Homo sapiens: one gene and its partners. The protein of the gene in region 2 purifies or fractionates together with the protein of the main gene of each other region. This does not show direct contact. Each region holds a gene or a part of one and is shown on either strand. Other genes may lie near its edges. The genes, in order: RGPD2, U2AF1 and CLASRP.

Evidence for each region.
Region 1: the proteins of U2AF1 (region 2) and RGPD2 purify together in Homo sapiens (affinity purification with mass spectrometry, with the first as the bait; one large-scale study listed by BioGRID). This does not show direct contact.
Region 3: the proteins of U2AF1 (region 2) and CLASRP purify together in Homo sapiens (affinity purification with mass spectrometry, with the first as the bait; one large-scale study listed by BioGRID). This does not show direct contact.

The regions. Positions count from the first base shown.
Region 1 is NC_000002.12:87,780,700-87,784,344, reverse strand, and holds part of RGPD2 (RANBP2-like and GRIP domain-containing protein 2), read left to right. Parts: coding exon 1-2,221; intron 2,222-3,107; coding exon of another isoform or gene 3,108-3,211; exon of another isoform or gene 3,212-3,645.
Region 2 is NC_000021.9:43,104,659-43,108,954, forward strand, and holds the start of U2AF1 (splicing factor U2AF 35 kDa subunit), read right to left. Parts: upstream 2,913-4,296; 5' UTR 2,837-2,912; coding exon 2,793-2,836; intron 1,188-2,792; exon of another isoform or gene 1,128-1,187; intron 898-1,127; exon of another isoform or gene 844-897; intron 1-843. UniProt on the Homo sapiens protein: Plays a critical role in both constitutive and enhancer-dependent splicing by mediating protein-protein interactions and protein-RNA interactions required for accurate 3'-splice site selection. Recruits U2 snRNP to the branch point.
Region 3 is NC_000019.10:45,066,418-45,070,062, forward strand, and holds part of CLASRP (CLK4-associating serine/arginine rich protein), read left to right. Parts: intron 1-919; coding exon 920-1,177; intron 1,178-1,597; coding exon 1,598-1,637; coding exon of another isoform or gene 1,638-1,641; intron 1,642-2,002; coding exon 2,003-2,063; intron 2,064-2,648; coding exon 2,649-2,707; intron 2,708-2,784; coding exon 2,785-2,831; exon of another isoform or gene 2,832-2,837; intron 2,838-3,526; coding exon of another isoform or gene 3,527-3,604; coding exon 3,605-3,645. UniProt on the Homo sapiens protein: Probably functions as an alternative splicing regulator. May regulate the mRNA splicing of genes such as CLK1. May act by regulating members of the CLK kinase family.

The DNA of each region.
Region 1 (3,645 bases), on a different chromosome or scaffold from region 2:
TCTTCTAATACAGAATTTAAGTCAACCAAAGAAGGATTTTCCATCGCTGTGTCTGCTGATGGATTTAAATTTGGCATTTCGGAACCAGGAAATCAAGAAAAGAAAAGTGAAAAGCCTCTTGAAAATGATACTGGCTTCCAGGCTCAGGATATTAGTGGCCAGAAGAATGGCCGTGGTGTGATTTTTGGCCAAACAAGTAGCACTTTTACATTTGCAGATGTTGCAAAATCAACTTCAGGAGAAGGATTTCAGTTTGGCAAAAAAGACCCCAATTTCAAGGGATTTTCAGGTGCTGGAGAAAAATTATTCTCATCACAATGCGGTAAAATGGCCAATAAAGCAAACACTTCCGGTGACTTTGAGAAAGATGATGATGCCTGTAAGACTGAGGACAGCGATGACATCCATTTTGAACCAGTAGTTCAAATGCCTGAAAAAGTAGAACTTGTAACAGGAGAAGAAGGTGAAAAAGTTCTGTATTCACAGGGGGTAAAACTATTTAGATTTGATGCTGAGATAAGTCAGTGGAAAGAAAGGGGCTTGGGGAACTTAAAAATTCTCAAAAATGAGGTCAATGGCAAACCAAGAATGCTGATGCGAAGAGACCAAGTACTAAAAGTGTGTGCTAATCATTGGATAACAACTACAATGAACCTGAAGCCCCTCTCTGGATCAGATAGAGCATGGATGTGGTTAGCCAGTGATTTCTCTGATGGTGATGCCAAACTAGAGCGGTTGGCAGCACAATTTAAAACACCAGAGCTGGCTGAAGAATTCAAGCAGAAATTTGAGGAATGCCAGCGGCTTCTGTTAGACATACCACTTCAAACTCCCCATAAACTTGTAGATACTGGCAGAGCTGCCAAGCTAATACAGAGAGCTGAAGAAATGAAGAGTGGACTGAAAGATTTCAAAACGTTTTTGACAAATGATCAAACAAAAGTCACTGAGGAAGAAAATAAGGGTTCAGGTACAGGTGCAGCCGGTGCCTCAGACACAACAATAAAACCCAATCCTGAAAACACTGGGCCCACATTAGAATGGGATAACTATGATTTAAGGGAAGATGCTTTGGATGATAATGTTAGTAGTAGCTCAGTACATGATTCTCCGTTGGCAAGTAGCCCTGTGAGAAAAAATATTTTCCGCTTTGATGAGTCAACAACAGGATTTAACTTCAGTTTTAAATCTGCTTTGAGTCTATCTAAGTCTCCTGCCAAGTTGAATCAGAGTGGGACTTCAGTTGGCACTGATGAAGAATCTGATGTTACTCAAGAAGAAGAGAGAGATGGACAGTACTTTGAACCTGTTGTTCCTTTACCTGATCTAGTTGAAGTATCCAGTGGTGAGGAAAATGAACAAGTTGTTTTTAGTCACATGGCAGAACTCTACAGATATGATAAAGATGTTGGTCAATGGAAAGAAAGGGGCATTGGTGATATAAAGATTTTACAGAATTATGATAATAAGCAAGTTCGTATAGTGATGAGAAGGGACCAAGTATTAAAACTTTGTGCCAATCACAGAATAACTCCAGACATGAGTTTGCAAAATATGAAAGGGACAGAAAGAGTATGGGTGTGGACTGCATGTGATTTTGCAGATGGAGAAAGAAAAGTAGAGCATTTAGCTGTTCGTTTTAAACTACAGGATGTTGCAGACTCATTTAAGAAAATTTTTGATGAAGCAAAAACAGCCCAGGAAAAAGATTCTTTGATAACACCTCATGTTTCTCGGTCAAGCACTCCCAGAGAGTCACCATGTGGCAAAATTGCTGTAGCTGTATTAGAAGAAACCACAAGAGAGAGGACAGATGTTATTCAGGGTGATGATGTAGCAGATGCAGCTTCAGAAGTTGAAGTGTCTAGCACATCTGAAACAACAACAAAAGCAGTGGTTTCTCCTCCAAAGTTTGTATTTGGTTCAGAGTCTGTTAAAAGAATTTTTAGTAGTGAAAAATCAAACCCATTTGCATTTGGCAACAGTTCTGCCACTGGGTCTTTGTTTGGATTTAGTTTTAATGCACCTTTGAAAAGTAACGATAGTGAAACTAGTTCAGTAGCCCAGAGTGGATCTGAAAGCAAAGTGGAACCTAAAAAATGTGAACTGTCAAAGAACTCTGATATCGAACAGTCTTCAGATAGCAAAGTCAAAAATCTCTCTGCTTCCTTTCCAATGGAAGAATCTTCAATCAACTACACATTTAAAACACCAGAAAAGGGTAGGTACTTTGTTGTTAAAGTTAAGCACAATTTTTCTTTCTTTTAATGTTTAGCTTGATGCAGACTCTTTGTGGGATACTAATGTTGGGATATAAACGATGCTTTGTGAACACCCCCAAAATATTTGAGCAATTTTTTTTCTCCCTTAATAAGTTCACGGTGAGGTTTCAAAGAGCAAGAGAACTTAGTTAAAGACATTTCAGTAACTGGAAGATACTTCTATCATGCTAGGGCAGAGCAAAAGAACTTGGTACAGTGTACGGACTCATGCTTGAATCATGCGCATTAACGTGAGTCTTTTTTTAAAGTGTTCATTTTCATTTGTTCTGTTTCTTTTGTCACTCAGAAAACATGATATTGAGGCTGGGCACGGTGGCTCACTCCTAGAATGCCAGCACTTTGGGAGGTTGAGGTGGGCAGATCACTTGAGCTCAGGAGTTCGAGACCAGCCTGGCCAATGTGGTGAAACCCTGTTTCTACTGAAAATACAAAAATGAGCCGGGCGTGGTGGTGCGTGCCTATAATTAGCAGCTACTCAGGAGGTTGAGGCAGGTGGATCGCTTGAGCACAGGAGATGGAGGTAGCAGTGAGCTGAAATCATGCCACTGCACTCCAGCCTGACTGAGTGAGACTTTGTCTCCAAAAAAAAAAAAAAAAACAAAAAAACAAAAAAAACCATGATATTGAGATGTTCTCATTTTATGTGTTGTATGTCAGTCTTGCTCATGTATTAAATGAGCAAAGAATGAAACTACAGGGATAAATGAATATGTAAGACAGTCAGATTGGTGGTATAAATTGAGGGATTCTGGCTTTTTATGTTTTAAAAGCATATTCATTTTGTTTCCTAAAATGTTAAAAAATGAAATATTCTTTATTTTCTAGGATTTAATTTTAGCCTTTTTAAATCTAATCCCATGGCCTTTTGGACTAGCACCCCTTCCTCACAGCCTGAGAGCAAAGGTATAGAACTAGCATTCTCAGTATGAGATAACAGCAGTTTTTAGCAGCTGGTAGCCCTTAGGAAAGTATTAATAACTGTGGCTGTATGAAATGAAGTACTTACCACTACAACATGAATGTTAAAGAATGCCAGTTTAAGCAAAGTACCTTTTGACTGGTGGCATGACACCCTTGTTGGTTTGTTTTTTAAAATGTACTGGGATGCTGATTTGTAATGTACTTCATTGCTCTGCTATTTCAGGTCTGCTCAGTGAAGACCTATGTTTTATCTAATGTTTATCTTTAGCCACTAACGTCTGCCAGTATTCACATGTAGTGGCAACGGCATGTATACAGTATGGAAGAGTGTCCCTGTAGGGCTGTTCTTTTGTGCATGGTTTAGAAAAATGTTGTATTTGAAAATGGACCCCATTTTTAACAGCCAGCATTCTACAGCTTGCATATTATATATGTTGCACAG
Region 2 (4,296 bases):
CCCCTCCACTTTCCTAACTGCACAGCTGTTCTGTTTGTTTCTTAAATGGAGTATTAAATTAGTCTAAAACTAAATGTAACTTAGGCAGTATCTGTTCTCCAGTTCTCCACGACCAAGTTCTCTCTTGAAAACACCGGTGTGGTGAGGGTTAAGATCCCAACTCTGCTACCAGCTGCTTGGGCTTGGGCAAGTCACCCTAGCTCTCAGATGTCATCTGTAAATGATGACAATGCCAATGTGGCACTGTTCTGAGAGTCAGACAGAACGTATGTGTGCTTCACATATGGTGCTCATGAAGTGCTATCATTATCTAAGGAAAACAGAAAACGAAGTTCAGAGTCTCTCTAAACGCATGACACCAGACCAACAGGGAGTTTCAAAAAATAGGTCTGAAGTAAATCAATTCTCCTGGTCTCAATACACTGAAAACAAACTATTAGGGGACTGACCGAACCCACCTTAGGAACCACCTTACGTCACCTTCTGTCTCTACTGCAAAACCCTCCCTTAATACTGTTCAAATACGCTGACAATCCAGATCCATATCCAATGGAACCAGCAATCATGCCTGTGTGCCAGCAATGTCAGGGAGGGAAGCCGATCTCTGATGAATTAGGACATCTTACCAGACAGACTTTGTTCAAAATTCAATTTTTTTTTAACCAAGTGCCATTATGTTTTAAACAGTCAATCCAGAGTTAAGATTGAAGGGCCTCAACCTCAGTGAAATCTAATGGACCATGAAGACTGACTAGCCACTGATTTATTATCAGGTAGCAATAAAGATGGGAAAGTCCAAATTTATCAGGAGAGGAAAGTGATTATATATATTTGCAAACTTACAGGTCTTGAGATTATTTAACTTGATTAGACAATAGCATATCTTTAGGAAGTCATCTAAAAATAAAGAAAGCTTATTTAAAAACTACCTCAGAATGGGCAAGCCCTGGGCCTCAACAATTAATATCCAATTATTCCACACAATTAAACTACAGACAAGCTATTAGGATATCCCTGAATCTAGAAAACATCTATAACTTCAAACATATAATAAGCTAAACATTTTTTAATTGGTAGAGATCTATATTTTATTCTTAGCTTAAATAATAATTAAAGTTAATATGAACCATCAGCTTCATTTTTCAGGAGTTGATCCTGTTCCCTGGAAGCTAAAACCCCACGTCTCCCTGAAAAGAAAACACAAGTAACCTAGATTAAATAATCAACTTTTCTGAATTAAAACCATGACCTTTATAGTATAGCCCAATAGATTGAAATGTGGTTGCTTATAGCAGAAATATAGGGAGATAGACTTTTACAAGACAGAAGTCATGCCACATGCAAATATGAAAAGGAGAAATTAATGATGCCCCGATCCTACATGTGTTAGTTCTTCACCCTAAACTCAGAAGAGTCTCTTGTTCCGATAGAGCTGGTCTATTCATTCGCCAAGATCATACCGTGAGTTCCTTAAGGATAATATCCAAATTTTACCCATGTTTAAGTCTCCAGAAACTGACCTATAGTTGACCCCCACTAAATGTTTCTGGAGTGACTATAACTGGTAGATTTTGGCTTAAAATTTTGCTAGAAATATAGCCTCCTCATCCAAACAACACAGGAGATTCTACCATGTGTGAAGAGGACATTTTACAAGATAGACTCCATCCTGGAAAAGAGAAACATTTTAAATAGCGTTTGAAAAAAGTGGCATTAAAAACATCTATGACAAACTTAGGGGTTTATCATTGAAAACATAAAGTCATGTTAACTTTGTATGGCACTGAAGAATGCCAAGATAACTAAAGAGTAGATTAAGCCAGATGCTGAGTCTTTAGGTTTTCAAAGTAAGAATTATCCTTCAAACGTCTGAAAACATTCCATTTAGTCTAAACTACAGCCAACTCACTGGAAATTAGTACGTGCCAAGGTGGCAATTAAAGCTGAAATTAAATGTTTTGCTTTTAACCTAACGATTGATTAGGGAAGGCATGCAACCTTAAGGAAAAAATCAAAACATCTTTTTCCTTATATCAGAATTGTGTCTTCAAGAACAGTCACCGACTTACAAATTTTCAACTTAGATGATGGGTTTATCGGGGTATTAAAGGCATTTTCGATTCATGATGGGTTTATCGGAACGCAATCCCATGGTAAATCCAGGAGCACCTGTATGTTAAGAGCGGATCACGTCTCTTGTGGTTAGATAGTTAATCCAGTAGTCTCCACCATACTTTTTCTCGTCATATCTCCTTACTGCCGGCCCAGCGGTCGCTTAAACAGGCAAGAGGCTGGCTAAGTGGATAAAACACCAACGCTTAGGACCCTAAGTTAGATAAGCGACTGAATACTGGCGAGGCTGGTACCAGAGCTTGCTCGACAGGACATTCACAGCCGAAAGTTGGAACAAACGTGTCCACGTCCAAAAGGCCCGGATGCTCCAGGCAACTTTCAGCGCGGCTCGAGGCGGCTTCCGGGAGTCGGCGACTCGGAGGCCCGGACGTCGGGCGATCAGCCAGTCCGGACCCCAAGGCCGGAGAAAGCTCGGCCGCGGCGCCCCGAAAAGAGACCCCATTCATTCTGCCCGCTCCAGTTTTCCGCCGCGCGGCCCACGAGGCGGCGGCTCCGGAGGGCGCGCAAGGGGCCGGAAGGGCCACCGCTCCTTCCCGCCGCGCGCCCCTCCCCCGCCACCGCCGCGCCGGCCCGCCTGGGCCTCCCCGGTCGCCCTCCCACCGCCTCAACCACCCTGCGCCCCGATCGCGCCCAACCCCCGGCGGGGGGCTCCCACTCACTTGTCTTTCTCGGTGCCGAAGATGGAGGCCAGATACTCCGCCATTTCCCACCCGCCGCCGCCGCTGCCGTCGACACTGCTGCCGACGCCGCCGACCCTGCCGACGCCCTCGGGAGACGTCACCCGGACGCGACGACGCTCTTCCCCGCCCCGACGTGGCAGCGCTACCCAGTCAGGCGAGGTGCTGCCTGCGCGTGGGCGGGACGCATGCGCGTAGGGAGCACGTAGTGCGCGTGGGAGGCTCCGCCTTTTCGGTCCTGGGAACCCGCGCCCCCTGCCGGTGCCCTCCCCGCCCGGCCCTAGCTCTCTCGCCTTCTCGCCCGCCCGGCGCTGGCCCTGCTGGATCCTGCGCGCCGGGGACTGGGGGCTGGCAGTGCAGACCGAACCCGGGGCCGAGGGGCTTCTCCACAGAGCCGCCTGGGGCTCGGTGGGGGGCGCTCAGCTCGACCCCAGCTAAGGGAGCACTAGGAAGTGCGGGCGTCCCCTTCCCTGCACCCTTGCGGGGCGGGAACCGTCGACCTAGAAGAAAAAAAAAGCTGAGGCAAACTTGATATAAGTAGAGAGGTTATTTGGGCCAAGTTTGAAGATTGCAACCCGGGAGCATAGCTTCAAGTTGCCCTGAACATAGGATTTGCAACAGTGACAAGTGGGTTTATAAAGCTTAAGAGGGGGGCAGTTCTTAAATAGCTCACCAAGAATTTACATGAAAATAACAAGCTATTAATTGGCTGTACGTTGTTCTTTATATCATAATTCCAGGAAAGGAAGTTCATGGGTGAAGGCAGCGGGTCCGGAGCAATAGTGCCTTTAAACAATTGCCAGGCATGGGTGGGGACCGCTGAAGCCGCATAGACCTGTCTCTCCGGGCCGGATTAACCTCGCACGCCTCACATAGCTCGGACGCTCTGTGTTGTTTTTCTCTTCTCACACCCCTCTCCGCTTTACCCTCCCTCAGCGCTTGCCAGGTGCGACCTCCCCGGGGCCCTGCACTCTTGCAGTTGCCTGGCCAAGGCCACCCACAGGTGGAGCTGGAAGGCCAGTGACCTGCCTCTGGGATACCCTTTCAGTCTCCTCATGTCACAAGGCTGGAACCATTCCGTTGGAAGGGTTCTATTCCTCTCCTGCGTTTTAACCCCATCAAGCAGCCATTTTCATCTGGTTTCCCACATTCATCAACTCACCTGCGATTTACCTAATTTCCAACGCAACTATCAACTCTGATTAGGTAGAAGTCAGAGAGACAGGGCCTATTTTACTTACCTCCTCCACAAGATGAGCCCCAGACTGTGGGGCAGGACCATGGGATCCTCTTAGCTCGGCTAGAGCTGAATGCTGAGCTCTAGTGTTTGGGCGGATTTGCGTGTTAGAATTGCATTTCTCTTGGCAACAGAGCATCTTCCTACCTGGGAAAGATGAGCAAACTGGAAACCTGTATTAGAAACAGTAGGGCCTCAGAGGTTTAAACCAAAAAGTATCTTGAGACAGGGCTCAATCAATTTAGAAGT
Region 3 (3,645 bases), on a different chromosome or scaffold from region 2:
CTTGTTTTCTTAATAATGACAACAAATTTTTATTTTATAAAAACGCAATTCAAAAATTAGCCGGGTGTGGTTGTGCACATCTGTAATCCCAGCTATTCAGGAGGCTGAGGCAGGAGAATTGCTTGAACCCAGGAGGCAGAGGTTGCAGTGAGCCCAGCTATTGCACCACTGCACTCCAGCCTGGGCGACAGAGAGAGACTGTCTCAAAAAAAAAAAAAAAAAAAAAAAAAAGAGCCCAAGCAGAGTCAGCGTGTGGCCCAGAATTGGCTTCCAGGTCATATATTCCTTGTAGCTTACCCAGAGCAATGACAGGAGAAAGGCTTGGGGGACAGGTGGGACCTGGGCACATCTTGCATGCCAGCCTGAGAGTGGGCAGTGGGTGGAGAGTCCCACCAGTGTCCTGAGCAGGGAGAGGATGGGGTTCCGCATCCCCAGACTGGAACTTGTGGGTCTGTGCTGAGACTGGTGGAGGACAAGGGGTGGTCCCCACTATTGTCGAGACCCTGGACACAAGCAGGATGAGGTGGTGGGTGAGGGTGTAGATGAGGTCACCGTGGAACACTGTTGTGCCTGAGCTGGACACGGCTCATAAAGGGGGAGCCAGCCATCCCTCCCAGAGCTCACCTCCCGGGAAGTTAGCAAGCGGGTGTCTAGTGAGGGAGAGGTGACGTGGGCCAGGCAGGGCTCATGATGGCAGGACTGCCCTTAGGCTGAGTGTATCTAGAGCGCCATCTCTGTAGCCGGAGGGAGGCCGGAATGCCGCTCTGGGACATTTTGGAGGGAGAGTAGCAGGAGAGGAGAGTCGAGCCTGTCACCCTGGGCCTTGCAGGAAGGAGGACTGTGGATCCGGACCCAGGGTGGGGTGCGGTTGGGGTCCCTGGAGCCTCACAGTCCTCCTCCCGCCCTGCTGCATCCCCAGGAGCCGCTCCCACTCAGGGGACCGCTACAGGCGGGGCGGCCGGGGCCTCAGGCACCACAGCAGTAGCCGCAGCCGCAGCAGCTGGTCCCTCAGCCCGTCCCGCAGTCGCAGCCTGACTCGCAGCCGCAGCCATAGCCCCAGCCCCAGCCAGAGCCGCAGCCGCAGCCGCAGCCGCAGCCAGAGCCCCTCGCCATCACCCGCAAGAGAGAAGCTGACCAGGCCGGCCGCGTCCCCTGCTGTGGGCGAGAAGCTGAAAAAGTGAGCGGGGCGGGTCTGGAGGAAGAGGGCTGCCAATCTCGGGTGGGGAGGGTGAACATCACTGTTTTCTTTTTGAGGGGAACTTAGCCCTACCCTGGGAGGTCTGGGGGGTGGTGTATGGCCCTGGCCTGGGAGGGTGGATTTCAGGGGGACACAGCCCTGGCCTGGGGGGTCTGAGGAGGACACACCAAATCCTGGAGGATCTGCACAATTAGAACCTTGTCCTGGGTGAGGGTCAGAGGGGGACAGGTCCCTGTCTTACAGGTTCTGTGGGGTCTGAGAGGGACATGGTTGCACCCTGGGGCATCTGAGGCCCATGCCTTGGCTACCTGGTCTGAGGGCAGTGCTGAGGCTGGGGTCAGAGGTGGCAGCTGCCCTTTCCCCCTCCCAACCATGTCCTCTGGCCCTGCCCCCACCCAGGACCGAACCTGCCGCTGGTAAAGAGACAGGAGCTGCCAAAGTCAGTAAGAATTTGGAACTCGCCCGTCTAATTCCCGTCAGCAGCAGTGCCCAAGAGCTGGGCCCGGTGGGCCTGCAGGGGGGCCCGGGTGGGCTGGGAGATCCAGCCCCAGGGACAGGGAGGGGAGGGGAAGGGTCTGCCCCTGTGAGAACCATGTCCCTCTCCCCTCCTCACTGTACACTGGGGCTCCACCTGTCACTGAACCTCTGGGAGCCTCAGGGCTGTCCACAGCCTGCCCCTCCTCCCCACGTCGTTCTCCCCCCCCCACCCCCCCCCCGCACAAAGCCCCAGGCTTTTGGCTGAGGTGGGTTGTGGGAGCTCTGGGACACCCACCCCCTCTCCCGCCTCTTCTCCCCCCTCCCCAGCCCAAGCTGACGCCTCAGGAGAAGCTGAAACTGAGGATGCAGAAGGCGCTGAACAGGCAGTGTATGTTCTGCCCTGTCCCTCCAGGGTTTCACAGCTCTTCTTTCCCTTGGCAGTGGGAGCAAGGAGACTCAGCACCACTTTGGGAGGCCTGGCCCTTCCCTAGAGAGGCCACGCAGGCACGGAGGTGCTCTGGGGAGGAATGGGTTTGCATCAGCTCCGCTGCCGCTATGCTGGGGCCTCTGCAGTCAGGTTGACCTGTCTGAGCTCAGCTTCCTCATTTTAGAGAGTGGGGCTCTTAGCGGGCACGGTGGCTCACACCTGTAATCCCAGCACTTTGGGAGGCCGAGGTGGGCGGATCACGAGGTCAGGAGATCGAGACCATTAACACGGTGAAACCCCGTCTCTCTAAAACTACAAAAAATTAGCCAGGCATGTTGGTGGGCGCCTGTAGTCCCAGCTACTCAGGAGGCTGAGGCAGGAGATGGCGCGAACCCGGGGGGCGGAGCCTGCAGTGAGCCAAGATCACGCCACTGCACTCCAGCCTGGGCGACAGAGCGAGACTCTGTCTCAAAAAAAAAAAAAAAGAAAAAAGAGAGTGGGGCTCTTAAGGGAACCCCTCAGCCACCCTGTTCTTTCTCTCTACAGTCAAGGCGGATAAGAAGGCGGCACAAGAAAAGATGATCCAGCAGGAGCATGAGCGGCAGGTGAAGTGGGAAAGGGAGGGCTGGGGTGACGGGTGGGTGCTGGCCTGGCCACGTCCTCATAGCCCTGTCTGCTGCAGGAGCGGGAAGACGAGCTTCGAGCCATGGCCCGCAAGATCCGCATGAAGTAAGACCTTGCCCCTCCCTGTCCCATGGCCACACCTCCTGGCCTGCCTGGCCTTCCCACCATGGGCTGCTGGCTCAAGCCCTGCCCAGCTCCCTGTGGGTGGATGAAAGGCAGAGATCCCTGCCTGGCCCTCGGGGCTGTGCCCAGCTGCCTCTCTTGCTCCTCTCCCTGAATTTCCTCCCACCATTTCGACCTGCCTCCCGCCACCGCGACCTCCTCCCAGCTCTTCCAGCCTCCAAGTGCCAGTCACCTTTGCTGTTTTTTTGGCCTGGCAAGCTGTTCCTGATACCCCTTCCCCACTCACCCACCGCCATGGGTCTTTCTCCTGTCCCAGCCTCAGTTTGCTTATCTCCTAAATGGAGATACAGTCACTGTCCCACCTCACAGGCTGTTGGGAGGATTTGACAAGATCAAGGCCAGGCACGGAGGAGGCACCCAGTAGACGTAGCCATTGGGTTGCCAAGCCTGGCCACTGTGACGGAGACCATTTCAACACTCACTGTGTGCAGGTGCCCCAGTGCGGCAGGAAATGATGGGACTATCCTGCCTCCCTCTGTTCCCCAGGCTTTCCTAGGAAGGGGCTGGGATTCCAGTCAGCCCCGCCAGCTGGGGTCCCTCTGAACCTGGGGCTCCCTTTCCAAGCGGGGATTGGTGGCAGTACCGGCCCCCTTGGTTTACTGTCTTCCTCGGAGTAGGGTGTTGGAAGCACCTGCCCTCCCTGAGTTCAGTGTGTCCAGTGTTCCCGGCCAGATGCTCATGCCATGCCTTCGCAGGGAGCGGGAACGCCGAGAGAAGGAGAGAGAAGAGTGGGAAC